Homo sapiens: one gene and its partners. The protein of the gene in region 3 purifies or fractionates together with the protein of the main gene of each other region. This does not show direct contact. Each region holds a gene or a part of one and is shown on either strand. Other genes may lie near its edges.

Evidence for each region. Proteins that work in one complex are often made in the same cells at the same time.
Region 1: the proteins of MAF1 (region 3) and POLR3E purify together in Homo sapiens (affinity purification with mass spectrometry; 2 studies listed by BioGRID and IntAct, with this or other methods). This does not show direct contact.
Region 2: the proteins of MAF1 (region 3) and POLR3B purify together in Homo sapiens (affinity purification with mass spectrometry; 2 studies listed by BioGRID and IntAct, with this or other methods). This does not show direct contact.

Annotation. Positions count from the first base shown.
Region 1 is NC_000016.10:22,300,393-22,307,418, reverse strand, and holds part of POLR3E (DNA-directed RNA polymerase III subunit RPC5), read right to left. Parts: intron 4,489-7,026; 5' UTR 4,451-4,488; coding exon 4,415-4,450; intron 2,264-4,414; coding exon 2,213-2,263; intron 1-2,212. UniProt on the Homo sapiens protein: DNA-dependent RNA polymerase catalyzes the transcription of DNA into RNA using the four ribonucleoside triphosphates as substrates.
Region 2 is NC_000012.12:106,451,732-106,458,757, reverse strand, and holds part of POLR3B (DNA-directed RNA polymerase III subunit RPC2), read right to left. Parts: intron 4,257-7,026; coding exon 4,047-4,256; intron 1,621-4,046; coding exon 1,462-1,620; intron 1-1,461. UniProt on the Homo sapiens protein: Catalytic core component of RNA polymerase III (Pol III), a DNA-dependent RNA polymerase which synthesizes small non-coding RNAs using the four ribonucleoside triphosphates as substrates.
Region 3 is NC_000008.11:144,100,353-144,107,486, forward strand, and holds the start of MAF1 (repressor of RNA polymerase III transcription MAF1 homolog), read left to right. Parts: upstream 1-4,108; 5' UTR 4,109-4,506; intron 4,507-5,287; 5' UTR 5,288-5,331; coding exon 5,332-5,414; intron 5,415-5,516; coding exon 5,517-5,645; intron 5,646-5,723; coding exon 5,724-5,889; intron 5,890-5,990; coding exon 5,991-6,112; intron 6,113-6,202; coding exon 6,203-6,322; intron 6,323-6,482; coding exon 6,483-6,611; intron 6,612-6,735; coding exon 6,736-6,757; 3' UTR 6,758-7,134. Other genes in the region: sharpin, read right to left, coding at 2,699-2,873, 3,201-3,401. UniProt on the Homo sapiens protein: Plays a role in the repression of RNA polymerase III-mediated transcription in response to changing nutritional, environmental and cellular stress conditions to balance the production of highly abundant tRNAs, 5S rRNA, and other small non-coding RNAs with cell growth and maintenance.

The sequences.
Region 1 (7,026 bases), on a different chromosome or scaffold from region 3:
GTGGAGGTATGGCAGTGCGGAAAATAGGCCCTTTCAGATCAGCTACATTCTAGCGCAAGGAGACGGTCATTTCCTAAAAGCTCACTCACACAGCAAAGCCGTGACTCCTCCCTGCTTCCTGGGCTGGGGCTGGGGGCAGTTCTGAGATCACCTGACTGGGGGTGGGAAGGCTGAAGGGCGCAGGTTCTGAAATCACAGGCCTGGCTTCCAGTCCTCATCCTTCCCCTTGCTAACTGTGGACTCAGGCAGGCACCTCGCCTCCCTGAGGCTAAGCATCCTCACCTCCCAAGGCCGCTGTGAGCACGGAGGAGGCAAACAGAGCCGATGGTGGCTCAGGGTTTGGAACTCTGGACACACGGGGGTCACTGGCACCTCCACCATCACTTTGCAGCCAGTCAAGGAAACAGGGTGAGCAGGCACACAGGACAGGCCCCATTCCCACGGCCCATAAGGGTGAACCCCAGGGAGTGGAGGCCAGGCCCTCCCAGCACAGGCTTACAACATTGCTGCTGTGGCATGCCCCAGGCCTCCGTGCCCGTGAAGGCCTCCCTGTGCCTCACGTTCTCATGTGCATCATGGGATATGAACACTGACTCTAACTGTGGGAAGGCAACATGGGGCAGAGCAGCCCAGCAGTGCCTCAAAAAGCTAAACGCAGACCCAGCAATTCTGCTACCAGGCATATACCTAGAAGAAATGAGAATTCACGTTCATCATAAAAACTTCTATGTGAATGTCCACAGTGGCATTATTTATAATAGCCAAAAAGTAGAAATAACCCAAATACCCATCAGCTGATGAATGGATAAACAAACTGTGGTCTCCCATACAATGGAACATTATTCATCAGTAAAAGATCAAATATTGGCTGGGAGCGGTGGCTCACACCTGTAATCCCAGCACTATGGGAGGCCGAGGCAGGCAGATCACAAGGTCAGGAGTTCGAGACCAGGCTGGCCAACATAGTGAAACCCCATCTCTACTAAAAATACAAAAATTAGCCGGGCTTGTGGCGCGTGCCTGTAGTCCCAACTACTCAGGATGCTGAGGCAGAATCACTTGAGCCTGGGAGGCAGAGGTTGTGGTGAGCCGCAATCAAGCCACTGCACTCCAGCCTGGGCAACAGAGCAAGACTGTGTCTCAAAACAAACAAACAAAAAAAAGAAAAGCTCAAATATTGATGCAGGCTATAGCTACCATGTGGATGAGCCCTGAAAACATCATGCAAAGTGAGAGCAGCCAATCACAGCAGGCCACATACTGCATGATTCCAGCTATGTGAAAAGTCCGGAATAGGCAAAACCATAAACAGAAAATAAGGGGAATGGTTGCCTGGGGTTGGAGGTGGGAATGGGGGGCACAGACTGATCGCTAATAGGCAAGGGGTTCCTTTAAAGGGGGACAAAACTGTCCCAAAACAGACTGTGGCGCTGGTTGCACAGCCCCATGAGTAGACTAAAATCCATTGCATTACACACTGAAATGGGGAAACTGTGTGGTGTGTAAATTCTATCTCAATATATCGGTTATAAAATGTAATAATCACCACCATAGGGTTATTGTGGGGTTAAAGAGGTAACTGAGGTAAATGCTTTCAACAGTCTGCATACGGTCAATGCTCAATACATGTTGGCCACAATGACAAGCTGCTGGCCCAGCAGCAAGGGGAGGGGGCAGAGGTAGCAACCCGGGGCCCTCGCAGCTGGCAGGACTGAGGGCTCACAGACGCTGCCATGGAGCTGCCCCTTGGAGCCTCCATGACAACAGCGGCCATCATCACTGGCACCAACTCTCTGCCAGGCGGCATCCTAAACACTTCACTGTGGACTCAGCCTGTCCTCCTGGGGACCTATGAGGCAGGCATTATCACCATCACCACTTTGCAAGTGAGGAAAGTGAGGCACAGAAGGATTAAGAAACTTGCCCACGGTCTCGCAGCTATGGTGTGATGGAGTTGGATCTCAATCCGGTCTGACCCCAGAGCCCCAGCTTTAACTGCTGCACACTTCTGCCTCTCCTGTGTTCCTTCAGTTTTCCCATCTTTGAAATGAGACCAATATTAACCCACCCACGAAAGCAAAGAGACCCCATGACACTCTCCACACCGAGAACCCTAGCTGAGGTTTCCCATCGTTTCCTGCCCGTGTTCCTGAGTCCACACCACCCACCCACACCTGCTTCTCCCCTCTTTACCTTCAAGTCCCATAATTACCTGAAATAGATACAGCTTTTCCGCCAGACTCTTGGCCAAGTACACATCGATCTGGGAAGAAGGGAAGACGACTTAACCGGGAGACTGGACACAGTGCTGACCTCCCCGGGCTATGCCAGCGCTTCCAGCTTCAGTTAAGGGCAGTGGCTCAGGGAAGCAGTTTGGGGAAGGAGGAAATAGCTCAGCTCATGCTAAAAGCAAGCGGATCCAAGGCTGCACACTGGGTATATTCAGGAATCCCTCCTGAAAGCTCCCAGGGGAACCAGGGCAAGAGTTCACCTGGTACCCCCACCCAAGTTCACAATCCCCCAGTAAGCACACATCTTCCCTGGGGCTGCACTGATCGGGAAACGTCCTACAGCCTGGGCAAATGCTCTTCTGAGAGGCAGGCAGGCGAGGGCTCACCTAGGCCTGTGCCTCCTGGCTGGGCCCTCCACCTGCCCCTCCTGGACCAGCCTGTCACCCCTTCTTAAGGGGTCTGCAAGGCCCTTTGTGACTGATGGCTCCACTTCCTTTCTTCCCAACACTAACCACCCCCACCCCGCCACGCAGCAGTTTACCTTCCTGCTTCCTAACTCCTCCTATAAACCACATGCTCTCCTACCCCTGGGCCTTTGCACATGCTTTTCCCTATACCTACAGAGCCCTTCACACATGCCTCCCCTGAGCCTTGACTGCTCGCTCCTCCAAGGACTTGGCTGAGGCACAACTTGGGCAGGAAGCATTCCAGGCCCCCTGGCTGCAGAGGGCACTGCCTCTGTCCTCGGAGTCCCTTGGACTCTTCTATCCCATCACCAACCCCCCTGTTGTAACTCCTGCTACTGCAGTGTAGATGCAGCTTAAATGCATCTAAATAACTCACATCTAATAACTTAGCAACATCCCCCAAGCAAGGAAAAACCACCTCTATTCATCTCCGAGGACCTTCTCCTTGCCCCTGCCCTTCCCACTGGAGGTCAGGCTCCGCATATAAGGAGGCTGAAGGCAGATGCAGTTACTTTTTGCCTTTTGCCTTCCAAAGGTCTAAGTCCTGGGTTAAAAGGATTCTGAAAGGTGAGTTTGACTATCAACAGCTTTCTCTAAGAAGGGAAACCTGTGCCGGCCATGGTGGCTCATGCCTGTAATCTCTGCACTTTGGGAGGCCCAAGGTGGGTGATCACTTGAGGTCAGGAGATCGAGACCAGCCTGGCTATCATGGTGAAATCCCATCTCTACTAAAAATACAAAAATTAGCCAGGTGTAGTGGCGGGCGCCCGTAATCCCAGCTACTCAGGAGGCTGAGGCACAAGAATCGTTTGAACCCAGAGGCAGAGACTGCGGTGAGCCAAGATAACACTACTGCACTCCAGCCTGGGAGACAGAGTGAGACTCCGCCTCAAAAAAAAAAAAAAAAAAAAAATTAGTCGGGCGTGGTGATGGGCACCTGTGATCCCAGCTACTCAGGAGGCTGAGGCAGGAGAATCGCTTGAACCTGGGAGGTGAAGGTTGCAGTGAGCCGAGATGGCACCACTGAACTCCAGCCTGGGCAACAGAGCAAGACTCTGTCTCCAAAAAAAAAAAAAAAAAAGGGAAATCTGCCTCCCACTGCCTGTACCCGGAGACTCCTGCCTCATCAGTCTTGCCCACAGCCCATTAGCTTCCCAGGGAAGGGGACCCTGCCCTGCTCACTGATGTGTCACAGCCCCCAGCACACAGTGGTCCAGTGAACAGCTGCTGAATGACTACATCTGCGTAAGCCTGGGAAGGAGGGACTGCTGAGCCCATTTATTCATTCATTCATTCACCAAATAGTCGCCGGGTACCTGGGTGCCAGGCACTATACTCGGCTTTGCGGCACAGCAGTGGACGGGAAAGAAAGCAATCAACTGATATCTAGGGGATGACGGGGGCTAGGCCAAGTATGAGTTACCGCCAAGGTAAGGGCAGAGAGAGGCACGGGAGGGTGCAGGAGGGGAGCTGGGTGTGGAAGGGCAGTCAGGGAAGGCCTCCCTGATGAGGTGATGCCAGATCAGAGACCTGAAGGAAGGGAGAGGTCAGCCACGCAGGGGTCTGGGGGACAGCAGAGGGGACCAGGCAGAGGGAACAGCAAGGGTTAGGGGTCCCAGAACATCAACAGGTCCCAGACTGGCCTGAGGACACATGGAAAGGACCCAATTCCACTGCCTGTAGCCCCGGCGGCAGGGGACAGAGAGCAGCAGTTACCTCCTGTACAACTGGGTCATCCTCTTCATTGGCCATACTAGAGGAGAGCCAGCCGCGCAGTCCTTCAGCTCGATCTGCAAAGGAGGGCGAGAGACTGGGACCATCAGTCGTTCAACCAACATTTCCTTGTGCCTATTCTGCAACAGGCCCTGCACTGGGAGGGGGAGCCCACAACCAACCAACTGACCTTCTTTCTACATCTACATTGAAGTCAACAATGGATGACCAACCCTATACCCCATCAGCCAGAAGAAATAAAGAAAAAAAGAAACACTCAAGCAGCGGGTGCAAGCGGGTAGACCAAGCCAACAAGTGTGGGCTGCACCTGCGGGGAAAGGCAAATGACTGGCTTTAATGGTTTCTTCTCTGCTCACAGAGAATTCACTGCCAGACAGAAGGATAGAGGTTGGCTGGTCCCAGCCATGATTAAAACACTGGAGAACTGAGGGCCCTGGGGACGCTTTAAAGAGGAGCCAGAAGTTGAACAGGAAGACAGACAGTCCAAAGCTCTCTGATATTTGATTTTCAAGCTGACTTTAACTCGAATCCTGAGTGAGATGACTCTTCTGTGTTTTTGGTCTAAAAATGACCTCTTCACACACTCTTCTGTCCTGTATTCAACACAATGACCCTATGAGGTGTGGTGATTGTCACTGTTTTATAATGAACAGACTGGAACTCAGAGATACTGTGTGCATTTTGACCCAAAGTCACATAGCAAGCAGGATGATGAACTGGACTTCAAATCCAGGCTGTCTGACCTCAGGTGACAGGTACAGGTAGGGGAGTTGAGAGGCGGGAAAGGCCTTTCTGCTGGGGAGGAGGCACGTTAGGTGCGCCTGGAAGAAGAGAGAGCTTTGGGCAAGTCATGACAACAGAGGGGAGGAGAAATTCCAGGAAGAGGGAAGGCTGTAGGTCTCCACGGGGCAGGTTGAGTATTTCAGCTGGTCTGCCCCTTCACATACCCAAAGAGAAGAGGGGTGGTCATAGGTAGGATGGTACTCAGGCACCCCCAGGCCTCAGCAGTTCCCAAACCTCTGCTCTTGGGTGAGACTAGCATGAATTTTTTTTTTTTTTTTTCTTGAGACGGAGTCTTGCTCTGTCACCCAGGCTGGAGTGCGGTGGTACGATCGGCTCACTGCAACCTCTGCCTCCCGGGTTCAAGCGATTCTTGCCTTAGCCTCCCAAGTAGCTGGGATTACAGGCATGCACCACCAGGCCCGGCTAATTTTTCTATTTTTAGTAGAGACAGGGACTTGCCATGTTGGCCAGGTTAGTCTTGAATTCCTGACCTCAGGTGATCTGCCCGCCTTGGTTTCCCAAAGTGCTGGGATTACAGGCGTGAGCCACTGCGCCCGGCTGAGACCAGCATGATTTTTGTCTGATCTACTTAACATTTGAACTATCTAATATTTATTTATTTTTAAGACATGTCTTGCTCTGTCACCCAGGTTGAAGTGCTCTGCCGTGATTTTGACTCACTGCAACCTCTGCTTCTTAGGTTCAAGTGATTCTCCTGCCTCAGCCTCCCAAGTAGCTGCAATAATTGGCATGCACCATCCGCTCAGCTAATTTTTGTATTTTCAGTAGAGACGGGGCTTTGCCATATTGGCCAGGCTGGTCTCGAACTCCTGGCCTCAAGTGATTCACCTGTGTTGGCCTCCCAAAGTGCTGGGATTACAGGCATGAGCCACCACACCTAGACAAAAGCCAAAGTCTTTATCATCCCATGTAAACCCTAAACAATCTCCTGCCCCTTGACCTGCCAGACCTCATCTCCCACAAGCCTCCTACCCTCCTCTCTGCTCCAAACCCACTTCTGGGGCTTTGTAGCTGCTCTACCCCCCCGATAACCTCATGGTCCCCCCTTCACCTCTTTCCGGTTTTTGCTCAAATGTCACCTTGTGGCTAAGACCTTCCCTCTCCAAATCACATTGCAAACTGCCTCCCCCACCCCTCAATTCCCTTCTCTGCTCTGGTTTTCTCCATAGCAGGTGTCTATCACCATGTGACAGTTTACAGCTCTGCATCTGTGCCCATCTCTATTGCCACTAAGCTGTAAGCTATGTGAAGGCAGAGATTTTGGTCTATTTTGTCCCTTGTGGTACCCCAAGTGCCTAGTACACAGCAGGCACTCAATACATGTTTGTTGTCTAAATAAATGAACCATGGGAATGCTATTTAATAGGAAGCTACAGAAGGATTTCGGGCAGAGGAAGACATGGAGCGGGTAGAAAGAGAAACTTCAGGGAAACAGCTATCGTAACAGTCCCAGAGATGGAGGATGGAATGAAAATCAGGAGTCGCATCTGGACAGTTTCAGTGCATCTCGACTGTCTGCTGTGCAGACAGAGGGCAGTGTAGAGCGGAGAGCCCAAGGCCTCACCCCATCTGCACCGGCTGCCAAGTGCCACAGATATGTCAAGCTCCTGCCTTCTCTGCAGCTGGGCAGTGGACAACTGAGAGGCTGGGGCCTGGGAGGTTCCCAAGACGCAATTGTTCTTTCTTGGCTATTGCTATGCCCTGTTGGCCTCTGCCCTGCCAGGGATCAGGGAGGCTGAGGTGCCCTGTCAGCTAGAGAGCTGGAGCTCCTTCCTCTGGATAGTACATCT
Region 2 (7,026 bases), on a different chromosome or scaffold from region 3:
TGTCACAGCGCGTATTTTCCAAGCCATACTGACCAGTGTTAGGGTGAGAAAAATTCTCCAAGAAACAAAGGCAGAGGGAGGGAGGAGAAGTCGCGTACTCTGTGTCTCTTTGGAACCACAGCTTGATAAAGCATTCACCGCCCACAGGCCAACCATGACAAAGTCATGTGGATTTCCCTCCTCACAAACTGGGTTCTCTCCACCTTCACCACAGCTCCTGGTACCAGGTCTACCTTCTATTTTAGTGCCCTTCTAATCCTTTTTCTACACTGTAGTCAGAATGATCATTCAAAACACATATCTGAATATATCATTGCTTTTAGGATCATAATGAAAATAGTATCATGGGCTCGGCATGGTGGCTCAAGCACTTTGGGAAGCCGAGGTGGGTGGAGAACTTGAGCCCAGGAGTTCAAGACAAGCCTGGACAAGATGGTAAGACCTCATCTCTACAAAAAATACAAAAAACTATCCAGGCATGGTGGCACGTGCCTATGGGTCCCAGCTATACAGGAGGTTGAAGTGGGAGAATCACTTGAGTCTGGGAGGCAGAGGTTGCAGTGAGCTGAGATTGTGCCACTGCACTCCAGCCTCAGTGACAGACTGAGACCCTGTCTCAAAAATAAAATTAATAAAATAAAATAAAGACAATACTAACATGGTTGCAAGGACTTGCTTACTCTGGCCCCTACCCCTTGCGTCACCCACCAACTCATGTGCACCATGCTTCCCTGCACTCTCTTCTTGTTAGCCACGCTGGTCTTCTTTCAGACCTTTCAACTACCAAGCTCTGGGACCCTTGCACAAGCTTTTCTCATTACTTAGAACATGCTCCCTGATCCTCTTCTTTAGTTAACTCTTCCCTATCCTTCAGATTCCAGCTCACTTCCTCGGGAAAGCCATGCTGATCTTCCCAACAAGGTCAAATTCTCTTGCTATAAAATGGCCTCATAGTTACCTATATGATTCCTTAACCTGGATTTATGCATGATCCTCTGATCAATGTCAGTCTCCTGCACTAGCCTGTGAGACCCATAAGGGCAAGGGCTATTTGTTTCATCAACAAAATGCATTACAAGTTTGTAATTATAATGGAGTCATACCTTTGCAGGGGGATAAAATTCTAAAGTAGTCTGTAAGCTAAATGTGTAAATGAAGAAATACCAGTGCAGATGCAGGGACATAAACTACTCTAAATATTTCCTTAAAGTGGCTTTTCTATTATTCAAAATTATAACTAGAAAATTATAGTTAGCATAGATTACTGATAGGTAAAAACATAGTGTATAGAAAAACAGACTGGAAGGAAATTCATCAAAAATGACCTCATTGGTTGAGTTTGGATGGTGGTTTTATAGGTTGTTACTTTTTTCTGCCCTTTTTGCCAAATATTCAGAAATATTATTGAATAACATATGATGTCAAAAAGTATTAAAATTTTTTCTTTTAAAAGGCTTTTACCTGGAGAACAAATACCATCTGCATCTAAGATTTCATGTCGCCAGATAGGTTTCCTTGTAGCAGCATCCAACATGGGCCCCATCACTTTATCAAAAGTCTGATTGGTGTATCGTTTCAACGTACATTTAGCATTTTTATATACAAGGCAACGCCCAAAGCCTAAAATGAAACCAAGATGGGCATTAGAACCACCAGTAACCCAAAGCTATAAGGAAATATGGATTTGTGCTACTCAACAATCCACTCCACCTCACCCTCCCCCAAATCCCAAAACTTCTCTGTATTTGATAATAATCTGGGACCAGTACAAACCAAATAAAAATCTGATAATCTGAAGAAGCAGCACAGGACTTGTCCCCTACCTACTGTCTGTGTAAACACTGGAATCTCTACAACCATTTTCTGCATGGAATACACCTTGTCATACTGGAGAACGGTGAGAGAAATCTAAGACTGGCGCTGTGATTCTTTCAGAGGACAGAGCCATAGAATATTAGAATTGGAAAGGCCCTTAGAAATCACCTGCTTAACCTATCTGTTTTACAGGCACTAGGAGTGAGGTCTAGAGAAATTAAGTGGCCAAGGTCATCCAAAAAGTTGGCAGCAGAGTTGAGAATTGTGTTGAACAGCACAAGTCCACTGACTCCTGAGCCAGGATACACATCCTTTTGGTGCATAACTTCTGCTAAACTTCCCTGGAAAGTTTTCCTTTTTAAAATTTGGCATTTAGAGCAAGTTCTAAGCCAACAAGTAAAAACAATAATTTTTCTCCAGAGAAGAGACAGAATGAAAAAAGAAATAATCAAATTATTTCAATGGGAAAAATAGTTCTCCTCTGCCCTAAAGATTGGAGTTTAATTACATTTTTAGATTGCATTTATCTAGTGGATGAGGGAAAGGCTGTGAAATCAACTAACAATCTAAACATCAAGAAAAATAAGCTGTCTAGCAATGGATCAGAAAAGAAAAGGAAGAAAAATAAGCAAAAAGGACAGAAGAAAAACCTTTGGGTGGGGCAAAAAAACTCAACCACTGAATCCCTAAAAGAAAAAATCCATGAGTTGTAGAGTTACCCAAAACAGCTGTCATTCCTTCAACACTATAATTTCCTGATTCTGTGGCTGCATTTCTTTCTTTTTTCCCTTTGGCCAAGCAGTTATTTTAAACTGGATTCTCTTACTAATCTCCTCAGGATATACTGAGCCATGCCAGAGTTCACTTAAATAAGAAATGTCTCAGGATTAAATGCCGCTTATTACTGATGAAATAAATGCATGGCAGTAAAATCCTTCACTTAACAATTTTCCACCAAAAACAGAAATCTAAGAATGTGACTTTAGAAATCAATCAGGTAAAAGTGGATTTATAAATAAAATCTCAGGGCTGTAATGTAATTTTTTAAATATGAAGGTGACTGTGAGATGAAGTAACGAATTTCTAAAATTGGACGTCAGATGAAGACATTTGTGTCTTTAAGCAAGGCCGTAGTCATCATGGCTCCTAGGAAATTGTGTATGGCCATAATAAACTCGGCTCAGAATGCCAGCTGGTTTGGAAACATTACATGATCTTGAAATTTCATACAGTAGCCATTAACTGCAACATGCTGGAGTGCAATGTGAATCTTAACTGCATGAAATCAAGAAGTGTTTTCTTCAAAGTGTAAACAGACATTTTATTTACAGGTGATAGCTTAAAAGCTAGGGGATAGTAAACTCAGATCACTGAATTGGGTTGCAGAGTTTCTGACAGACATCACAAAGTCTTCAGATTTCCACATAAACGTTACCAGTTAATCAGAAAGGAAAACATCTAGTTTTAAAGCATGGCTGTTGTCATTTGGAGGAAAAAAAGAGGCATAAATTAAGTGTGGCCAACATTAATGCCAAAGACACATGTCTAGGAGTACTATTATGGCTGCCTAGCAACTACAAAGAGGGAAGGGGAAGGCATAGTGGGTACGCCAGGAAGGAAAAAGAGAAATCGAGATTATGAATAGAGAAGTCAGACTTCAGATCAGGTGATGTCTAACAAACCACGAGGTGGTGACTTGTGAAAGTATTGTCAAAAACAGAAAGAAAAGCAGAAAAACTCCACGCCAGAGTTTGTGGCCGTGTATTTTTAACTTTCGTCACTTGGCCAAAGAAGTTACCAAATTATGAGGTTACACAAATAAGAAACAGCCTTTTACATCCAAATATTGCTACTGCCCTCTCAAACAGGTTTGTTGTTAATAATATGTATCACTAGACACAGTGAAAACACATATTTCATATACTGTAATTCCTGCTGGAAAACAAACACATTCTTACATTTTTTTTCTTTTTGAAGGATTGTCTCACGTAACCAATAAAATAATAAAGGAGAAAAATATTCTGTAGTAGTATGTTTAACAAATTATTTCAATATACTAGTCATTAAAAATGACAAGAAAGCCAACATCAAAACCCAACCACCTCCTGTTTCTATATCATAAAATTCAAATAACTTAAAACTGACATTAACCAAGTGATTTTTACATTAATCATCCCTATATCTAATTCTGCAAAAAGCAACTTTGGTGTTAGTTTTGAAAATTCACTTACCTCTGTCTAAAGAGGCCTTGTTTAAAACAAGAGCATCTTCAATATCATAGCCACTATAGCTCATCACAGCAACTGTTGCATTCTGTCCAGCTGGCAGTTTCTCAAATTCTATCAATTCAATGGTTTTTGTCTTAACCATGGGTTTTTGTGGATATGCTAGTAGATACATGAGAGTATCAATTCTGTTTCGCTGGTTGTATCCTATAGTACCTGCATTGATATGGGAGAAAACAAAATACAACATTCTATTATGTGAAATAATAAGGTAGTAATGAATATAGAGATAAATACATTAACATCACTAATTAAAATGAACAAAATCTTCAGGTTCAACATTTCAAAAGCAATACTCTCATGGTGGCTTAACAACTTGCAAAAGCAACTTTTCTCACTAATATTTAAAGTTCTACAAAGAAGGAAAAATATAAAGTATATTTTAATCTAAATAATTTAGACTTTTTGGATTTACATTATCCCATTTGAGGGATTTAGTTTCCACTGGTTAATTTCACAATCAACAATTCTTTATTTGGTTCTACCGTGTTCCAGGCCTGCTGGGGAGAGGTAATGTAAGAACAACGCCCAGTGTTCACATCCGAGGAGCTTATAAAATGGATAAACAGGTATATTCCATAAAAAGAAATAATTGCAAAAGTTCTAAATGAAAAAGAATACAGGAGAGAAGGGAAGAAAAAGAATGAACAAAGAGGAATTCAAGTGAGAGCAAGGAAGAGTGGATTATGCATTTATTTGATGATTCATGTATTAAGCAGTTAATAAACATCTACTCTGTGCCAAAAACTGGAGATAAAATGAGAAAAGGCTTGGCCCCTTCCTTAAGAAATCTAGGGTACAGCCCAATCAGGGGTGGGCTCTTCCCTCCTTAGCAATCAGTCTTTCCACCTGATTGTTCCTCGGATGGGTGTTATTGGGTCACTGTCAACTGAACATGAAATCAGAATGTTAACCCTTTCTCTCATTTCCCCTTATAAACACACTGGGGTTCATGCACCTGCCTGAAGATGAGTCTTTCAGTCTCCTCGGCTTGTGGACACAGAACTGATGCTACAAAGAGATGTTAAAGTTGGAAAACTCAGGCTTGCTCTACTGCTGAGCTTGAGTGTGGGCTACTGAGCCTCTTTAACTTCTCCTAGGTATCTCTTTTCTCCCCCTGTGAATAGCTAAGGCAGCTTTAAGTCTCTCTCTCTTGCACACGCTTCCATAGTGACACATACACACCACACACACACACTCCGAAGTACCTAAGTGCCATTTCACAGAGTTACACCCTAGGGTATGCAGACACCAAAACTCAGTATTTATTTCCTTTAACTTTTTCTCCATACTCATGTCATTAAATCAATGATGATTTCATTTTGGGGATGAAAATAAGCTATTCAGGCTGGGCGTGGTAGCTCATGCCTGTAATCCCAGCACTTTGCGAGGTCGATGTGGGTGGACTGCTTGAGCTTAGGAGTTCAAGACCAGACTGGGCAACATGACAAAACCATGTCTCTACTAAAAATGCAAAAATTAACGGGGCATGGTAGTCCCAGCTACTTGGGTGGCTGAGGCATGAGAATCGCTTGAGCCCAGGAAGTAGAGGTTGCAGTGAGCTAAGATCATACCACTACACTCCAGCCTGGGCAATAGAGCAAGACCCTGTCTCAAAAAAAAAAAAAAAAGAAGAAAAGAAAAAGAAAATAAACCATTCAAGCAGCAAAAATTACTTGACAATTACTACTGAAAGAAATAGTACATATGTAGGGAATACCTAGTGCAGTGCCATGCTTATTATAGATGCTCAATAAATGTCAAGCAAATTAAATTGAAGAATTCTATTATACTTTTTATGACAGTATGTGCTTAAATCTCTAAAAACTTAAAAAGATTCAGCTGAAAAACAAGTCAAACTGAAACTCATGAACTTTATCAAGGTTGCACTATAAATTGCCAATTGATTTATGTTATTTTAGTGCCAACTAATAAACTGGGCAGGATACCTGGCAATAGATCACTTACTGTTTTAGAAATAAGATTACTACTGCTGGGATTATGGTAAAGTTCACTGACAATAAGTTTGTCCTTTTTTATGAAATCACTTAAAATTTATGTTGAGATTTCAGTTCCAATTGTATACCTTACTCAGCTGGAGACAAGGGTTCAGGCAATGTCCCACCAGGCTGCCAAACATGTCTTCTGAAACCTGAGACACGCATTATTATGCAGCAGGGAAGCATAAATGGCTGCACCTCTAAACAATGGTGAAAGAGACTGGATCCTGCTATAAATTGTGCTACCAGGCCCAGAACATAATTCTCAGGCATTACAACTGACCACTGAATGGATGAACAGCAAAATAGTTTAGCAAATGTTTAGTGCTTATGACATCAAAAAGTTTTCTCTAAAGGCCTTTTAAAGAACTTGTGAGAGTATACATGTACGTGCATTTTTAGCAGCACTGACTATGGGTGTGTAAGTTAAAATGTTAAAATAGAATTTATAAACTATTCTATATCATAAAACTTCAAAATGCTATCAGATTCCCAAATGTTTATAAAAATAATGAATGGCTGACTAACCATTTTGCCAATAAGCAACAGGCAAGCAAATGATAGGGCTTGCCTGTGTGCAGCACACGCTCAAACTTTGATTCCCCTATTAGTATTTTCAGCTTCCTTAAAAAGGGCGTTACATATATATACACACATATAAAATAACACAAGGAGAATATCTATAAGTTGCATTCTACTTCTATTATCCCATTTTGCTGTACTATGGTCTCCAATGATTCCCTTTACTTACTAAGGCATAATCTTTCTAAAAAGCCCTATTTTCTTGATAACAACTTTCTTAAGTCACAAGCTGGCACTACAAGGTAAACAAATGTAAGTTAAAATATTGAAAAAGTGCTCTTTTATAAGGCAGCATGAAAAAGCTTGGTAAGGAAGGATGTAAACAGCTTAGAAAATGTATGCTG
Region 3 (7,134 bases):
GCCAGCCAGGGATGCCTCACAGCAGAACCAAAGCAGGCCCTCAGTGGCCCTGCAGTCAGGGTGGCCTCTTGGAGCCCTTGGGGACCTCCCCTCTCCGGGCTCCCTGACCCACACCTGGGCTGCCAGCACTCCAGACAAGCCACTGCCCTGGGCGTCTTCAGAGCTGAGCACCCTGCTGACTCACCTTCTTACCCGCCCTGTGAGGCCCAGCCCACTGCAATGGGGGGGTCCCCATCCAGTGCTGACACAGCTCCCGTGGTCTCAGGCCCACTATATTCTACCATCTCCCTACTAGGATAAGCAGGGCCTTCCACGCACCCAGCGCTGTTCCTGGCCCCGGCCCCGGCCCCGGCCCCCACTGAACCTCAAGGATCACTTATACATGCTCACCTCAGGGTTTGTTTGCTGCTTCCTTGGTCACATGGTTCATGCCATGACCTTCAAATTTCACTCCAGTGTCACCTCAATGAGGCCTTCCCTGCCACCACTTTTTTTTTTTTTTGAGACGGAGTTTCACTCGTTGCCCAGGCTGGAGTGCAGTGGTGTGATCTCGGCTCACCGCAACCTCCGCCTCCTGGGTTCAGGCGATTCTCCTGCCTCAGCCTCCTGAGTAGCTGGGATCACAGGCATGCACCACCACGCCCGGCTAATTTTGTATTTTTAGTAGAGACGGGATTTCTCCATGTTGGTCAGACTGGTCTTGAACTCCCGACCTCAGGTGATCTGCCCACCTCGGCCTCCCAAAGTGCTGGGATGATAGGCGTGAGCCACCGCGCCCGGCCCCTGCCACCGTTTTAAACAGCAATCCTCCCAGCTCCACCATTCTCATTCCCACACCATCTAACAGACTTTCTTTTTTAAAAAACTCTACAGTAATTTTATTATTTTTGTTTTTTTTTTTGGAGACAGGATCTCGCTCTGTCACCCAGGCTGGAGTGCAGTGGCACGATCACAGCTCACTGCAGCCTAGAACCCCTGGGCTCAAGTGATCCTCCCATCTCAACCTCCCGAATAGCTGGGATTACAGGCAGACACGACTACACTCAGCTAATTTTTTTTTTTTTTTTTTTTTGTGAGATGGAGTCTCGCTCTGTTGCCCAGGCTGGAGTGCAGTGGTGCAATCTCGGCTCACTGCAAGCTCCACCTCCTGGGTTCACGCCCTTCTCCTGCCTCAGCCTCCCGAGTAGCTGGGACTATAGGTCCCCACCACCACACCCAGCTAATTTTTTTTTTTTTTTTTTTTTTTTAGTAGTCAGGGTTTCACCGTGTTAGCCAGGATGGTCTCGATCTCTTAACCTCATGATCTGCCCACATCGGCCTCCCAAAGTGCTGTGATTACAGGTGTGAGCCACCGTGCCCGGCCCACTCAGCTAATTTTTAAATTTTTTGTATGTTGCCCAGCCCTGTACTTATTTTATATGTCTGCCTCCTCCCCTCTAAAAATGCAAGCTCCAATAGGATGGGGATGGGAGGTTTTGTTCATGCCAAAGGAGTACCTGGGACAGGGCAGCTGCTGAATACATATGCTTGGTGAATGACTAAAGAGAGCTTAGCTCCTTTTATAAACCCTGAGTTGCTTGAGTCTCTCTTACATCACTGTCTGGCTGTCTTCCTACCCCTCTGGCAGCTCTGCTTATCTCGTTTGTGGGCTGCCCTCTATCTGGGAGCCCCATACTACCTAGTCCTTCATGTTTCTCAGTCTCAACTGCTAACTCTTCCATTTAAGCAGCCATGTGAGCCAGGGGCAGTGGCTCATGCCAATAACAGCTACTTAGGCTGAAGCAGGAGGATCACCGTAGACCAGGAGTTCAAGGCTCCAGTGAGTTAGGGTCACGCTACTGCACTCCAGTCTGGGTGAGAGAGGGAGTCTTTGTCTGCAAAAAACCTCCCAAGCAGCCATGAAACTCAGCTAATTCCATCTTCTTTTTTTTTTTTTTTTGAGATGGAGTCTTGCTCTGTCACCCAGGCTGGAGTGCAGTGGCAAGATCTCAGCTCACTGCAACCTCTGCCTCCGGGTTCAAGTGATTCTCCTGCCTCAGCCTCCCCAAGTAGCTGGGACTACAGGCACACGCCACCACGCCTGGCTAATTTTTGTATTTTTAGTAGAGACAGGGTTTCACCTTGCTGACCAGGCTGGTCTCAAACTCCTGACATCAGGTGATCACCCACCTCGGCCTCCCAAAGTGCTGGAATTACAGGCGTGAGCCACCCCACCCGGCCACTAATTCCATCTTCTAAGCATCTCTAGAAACATCCTTCTCCCCAACCCTATCTGCACCAACCCTTGCCACTGCAGAACTCTGTCTTAAGCAGGAGGTATCTGAGTCTGTCACTCTCCCACTCCTGTCACTCTCCTGCTGCTCTTGGGATGATGTCTTCTCACACAGGTCCTGACCCTGCCTGCTCTGCCTCTTCATGCTTGCCTCTCATCCTTCCTGAGGGTTAAGGAAGTGCAGGCTGAGGTTCCAGGGCTTCCTGGTGGAGGCTGCAACTTGTGCTGGCTGGGGCCTCAGATGGTGTAGGAGACTGACTCCAGCAGCCACTCCAAGTACTCCAAGCTACTCCAGGCTCCACCTACTCCCTCCTGGAAGCCTTCCCAGACATCCAGCAGTGGGGAAGGTGGATCCAACTTCCCCAACCAGGACTGGGGGGCCAAGGCTATTCCAAATTGTAATTGTATCCATTACAGGGCACTGACCATTCTGTCCTTCCACGGTGGCACCTCGGACTAGGACTGCCCACCGCTGAGCTTCCTGAGGGTTGAGGAAGTGCAGGCTGAGGGTTCCAGGCCCTCCTGGTGGAGGCTGTAGCTCGTGCTGGGTGGGGCCTCGGATGGTGTAGGAAACTGACTCCAGGGGCCACTCCAAATTAACCTGAGAAGAGGGAGAGTCCAGGCTCAGGGCGTCCCCCCGCCCTACATCGCACGAGGAGCAAAGAAATACAAGGTAACATTTATAGACCATTTACACGGTCCTAAGCCCTGTACGCCTATCATCAAATCCTCACAATAGCCCTGTAAAGTAGGTCCAGGTAGGTCCCAGTAGGTCCGAGCGTCACCCCCATTTCACGGACGAGAAAACAGAAGCAAAGAAACATAACTGCTTAAGGGCACCCAGGTGGCAAGCGGAGGGGCCTAACTTTGGGCTCCGTGCCCTGCCCGGGCCAAGAGGACTGACCGCGCGCCCTCCGCCCCCACTCACCGCCCCAGGTCCCGCGCCCAGCAGCTCCAGCCGGAAGCGCCCAGGCCGCTCAGGGTCCGCGCTCAGCTGCAGCCTCCGCAGCTGTGCCTCGGCGTCTGGCCCGGCGCCCAGCGGCCTCACCGCGGCGTGCACAGCCAAGAGCACTGCGGCGGAGCCCAAGTCCGAGGCCGCCGCCGCCGCCCCGCCCGCTGGCGGCGCCATCTCCGGTCCGGCCGGGTCCCACCCCTCCGAGCGCGCTTCCGTGGGATCGGGCCGCTGAGCCCCCTCCGCCGGTCGGAAACACGGGCCGCGAACCTGGGGTTCCGGGCGCGCCCAGAGCGTCGGGCCTGGGACGGCGCCGAGTGGTGCACTCTGGCCAAGCCTGCCCCGCTGGCTTTGCCCACAAATGGACACGGCCCGAGGGTCTCCGGACACCGGCTGGGCGAGGCTGGCGGCGTGTACGAGGCTGGGGCAGGGCGGCCGAGGCGCTCACGTTAGAGCTGGTCTTTGGGGGCGAAGGGTCAGGGGGCGAAGCACCGGCCACAACTGAAGGCGGACGCGGCCTCTTCGCCCCAGGGGCTCGGCGGACGTAGATGCATCCAGCGTGCGACTATCCCAGCGCCTAACGGCAGCTGGACTTCGCTCCCGGGACCTCCAATGGGCTGCCACCTTCGCCCGCAGACCCCAGCCCCCGCCACGCCCACACGTCGCACTAGGTTGGCCCGCGCCTCACTGGTTACGGGGTCGACCCCCCTAGGGGGCGGAGCTAGAGAGGCCACGGCCAATGAACGCCGGGGGTAAGCGGGTTAGTACGACGAGAAGAGTGACAGACAGGCTCCATAACCAGTAGACGTAGAAGGCAGAACTGAGTGGCGGGTACGGCACCCGATGGCTATTCGAGCTCTCGATCTCGGAGACTGGAGCGGGCCATTCAGAGGCGCGGGGCCGGGCCCGGCGGACGCTTGTTGTTGTCCGGCCGGGGGAGGCGGAGGTCGCTCGCTCGCTCGCTCGGCTCGCTGACTCGCCGGAGCGCTCTGTGGCGGTCGGCGGCAGGTCGGTCGCGAGAGCGGGCTCTGTGGAAGGGGGCGAGGCTATGTCGCGGTGGCAGCCCGGATGGGCCGGCAGGGCCGGGAGTAACGGGACGTCGCCGCGGAGCTTCTTCCCCCGGATACAGTGCGGCCCGAGCGGAGGCCGCGGCGCCGCCCTCCGATCTTGAAGAGCCCGCGCTGCGCGGAGCCCGCCCCCGCCTGCGCACCGGCACCGACGCGGAGCGACCCAGCCCAGCCAGACCCGGCCCGGCGCGGCCTGATCTAACCCAGCCAGGCAGGTGGGTGTCCGCCCTGCGTCCCGCGCCGTCTGCGTACCCGGAACCACAGCCCCCAGCAGGCCTCGCGCGGCGCGCTGCCTCCTGGGATTTGTAGTTCCACCGCGGCTTGGCTGGTGCCCGACGTGGCCCAGGCGGGCGCTGCCTGGTGACTGCAGCGCCCCAGCGGGGCCGAGGGACCGCCCTCCTAGGCGTCTGGAGAAACTAGGCAATTTTTCCGGGTAGAGTGGAGGAACCTGTAGTTTTCCTCTCCCCGGGCCAGAAAGTAGCCAAAACGAAAGAGCGCCCGCCCAGGTGACCGCAGGGCCCGGAGTCCCAGGTGTCCTGGTTCCTAACCGGGATGCAGCCTCTTACCTTGGCTGAGGAGCCCAGCCAGCCTGAGGGAGACTGCAGGAGTCACGTCCCGTTGCGGACTCAAGAGTTACCCCCATGGTGGCTGGAGCTCTTTTGGAGTGGGCGTGGAGATGGGGAATGGGAATGTTGAGCAACAATCTCAGCCAGCAGCCCCAGGGTGAGCAGGGTCCCCGGTGGTCTAGTCTAGTCCCAGAACTCGCGTGTTCTGCAGGGGGTATGGCTGACCTGGAGCCTGGACTTACCACCCTCAGGTAAAACAGGATCTCTGTCACCTCTCCTGGCCGGGCAGAGAGGGGAGCTCCTGATGTGCAGCCTGGACAGAGGCCAGACTCAGCTTGTTCCTAGCGGCTCCACTTAGTGGGTAGGAGGGCTGAAGGCAGGGCCCCAAGGGGCCAGATAGATACCCATGGTCTGGTCTCTCACTCCCCAGGCAATACTAGCCCCTCTGGAGCACGGAGCTCCTTCCCCAAAGACATGAAGCTATTGGAGAACTCGAGCTTTGAAGCCATCAACTCACAGCTGACTGTGGAGACTGGAGATGCCCACATCATTGGCAGGTGAGGCAGGCTGGGGGGGCTGGCATCTCGGAGGTCACACTGCCGCGCCCTTCAGTGGAACCTGGGGGAAGCATGCTTCATGGTTCTCTCTGCATCCTATAGGATTGAGAGCTACTCATGTAAGATGGCAGGAGACGACAAACACATGTTCAAGCAGTTCTGCCAGGAGGGCCAGCCCCACGTGCTGGAGGCACTTTCTCCACCCCAGACTTCAGGACTGAGCCCCAGCAGGTGAGCCATGGTGGGGCCTACCTGGGGCTGGGGGTTGAGGGGAGGTGATGGGCCCAGCTGATGGTTCTGTCTGTGCAGACTCAGCAAAAGCCAAGGCGGTGAGGAGGAGGGCCCCCTCAGTGACAAGTGCAGCCGCAAGACCCTCTTCTACCTGATTGCCACGCTCAATGAGTCCTTCAGGCCTGACTATGACTTCAGCACAGCCCGCAGCCATGAGTTCAGCCGGGAGCCCAGCCTTAGCTGGGTGAGGGTCAGGTGGAGGGAAGGGACCCACAGCCACCCCACTGTCCTTCCCCACTTTGGGTAGCCCTGGGCTCCTGTCACCCTGACTGTGACCTGCCCTAGGTGGTGAATGCAGTCAACTGCAGTCTGTTCTCAGCTGTGCGGGAGGACTTCAAGGATCTGAAACCACAGCTGTGGAACGCGGTGGACGAGGAGATCTGCCTGGCTGAATGTGACATCTACAGGTGGGCCGGCATCCCTGCAGATGGCCTCCAGGCCTCCAGGTTTGTGGGGCACTTGGCGCCTCACACCACCTGTCACCCTATACTCCCCAGCTATAACCCAGACTTGGACTCAGATCCCTTCGGGGAGGATGGTAGCCTCTGGTCCTTCAACTACTTCTTCTACAACAAGCGGCTCAAGCGAATCGTCTTCTTTAGCTGCCGTTCCATCAGGTGGGCACCCCCCGCCTCCTCCCCCACCTCCCTGTTGGGCCGATACAACTTCCCCAGCTGTGCCATCTCCACCCAGCTTTGCCCTCCCTGAACATCCTCCCTGGGGCCAGCAGCAGGCCTGGGTAGGGGTCCTGAAACTGGTTTCCCTGCCTCCCCTCAGTGGCTCCACCTACACACCCTCAGAGGCAGGCAACGAGCTGGACATGGAGCTGGGGGAGGAGGAGGTGGAGGAAGAAAGCAGAAGCGGGGGCAGTGGGGCCGAGGAGACCAGCACCATGGAGGAGGACAGGTGTGTGATGGGGGCCATGACCCGGGTCCTTGAAGCCTGGAGTGGGTACAACAGGGTGGGGGCCTCCTCTACTTGGTCTAAGTGGTGGCTCCTGAAGGCCCACTGTGTGCCAACCTCCGCCCAGGGTCCCAGTGATCTGTATTTGATGAGGAGGAGCCGAGGCCCCAGCTTCATCCAGCTTCAACCAATGCCTGGACCTGTCCACCTGAGAGGCCCCTGGGGCCTCCCCAGCTGCTGGCCAGACCCTGGCGCTGCCACAGTCCTGGCACTGCCCAAGGCCATACCTGCCTAGCCCTTTGGCTCCATCCTGTGGATGCCCACTCACCCCTCAGACTCCTGCTGCCCATGCTGTGGCCGGACTTGTCAGCAGGGGGCCTGGTGGGAGGAGCGACTGCCCTGCCCAAATGAACTGCCACAGCAGGGACAGCTGGACCGCAGAGTTTATTTTTGTATTTCTACTGGGCCTGCACACTCCAGCCCAAAGGGTCTGTGGCCGGAGGCCCCACGAGCAGGCCCCAGCAGT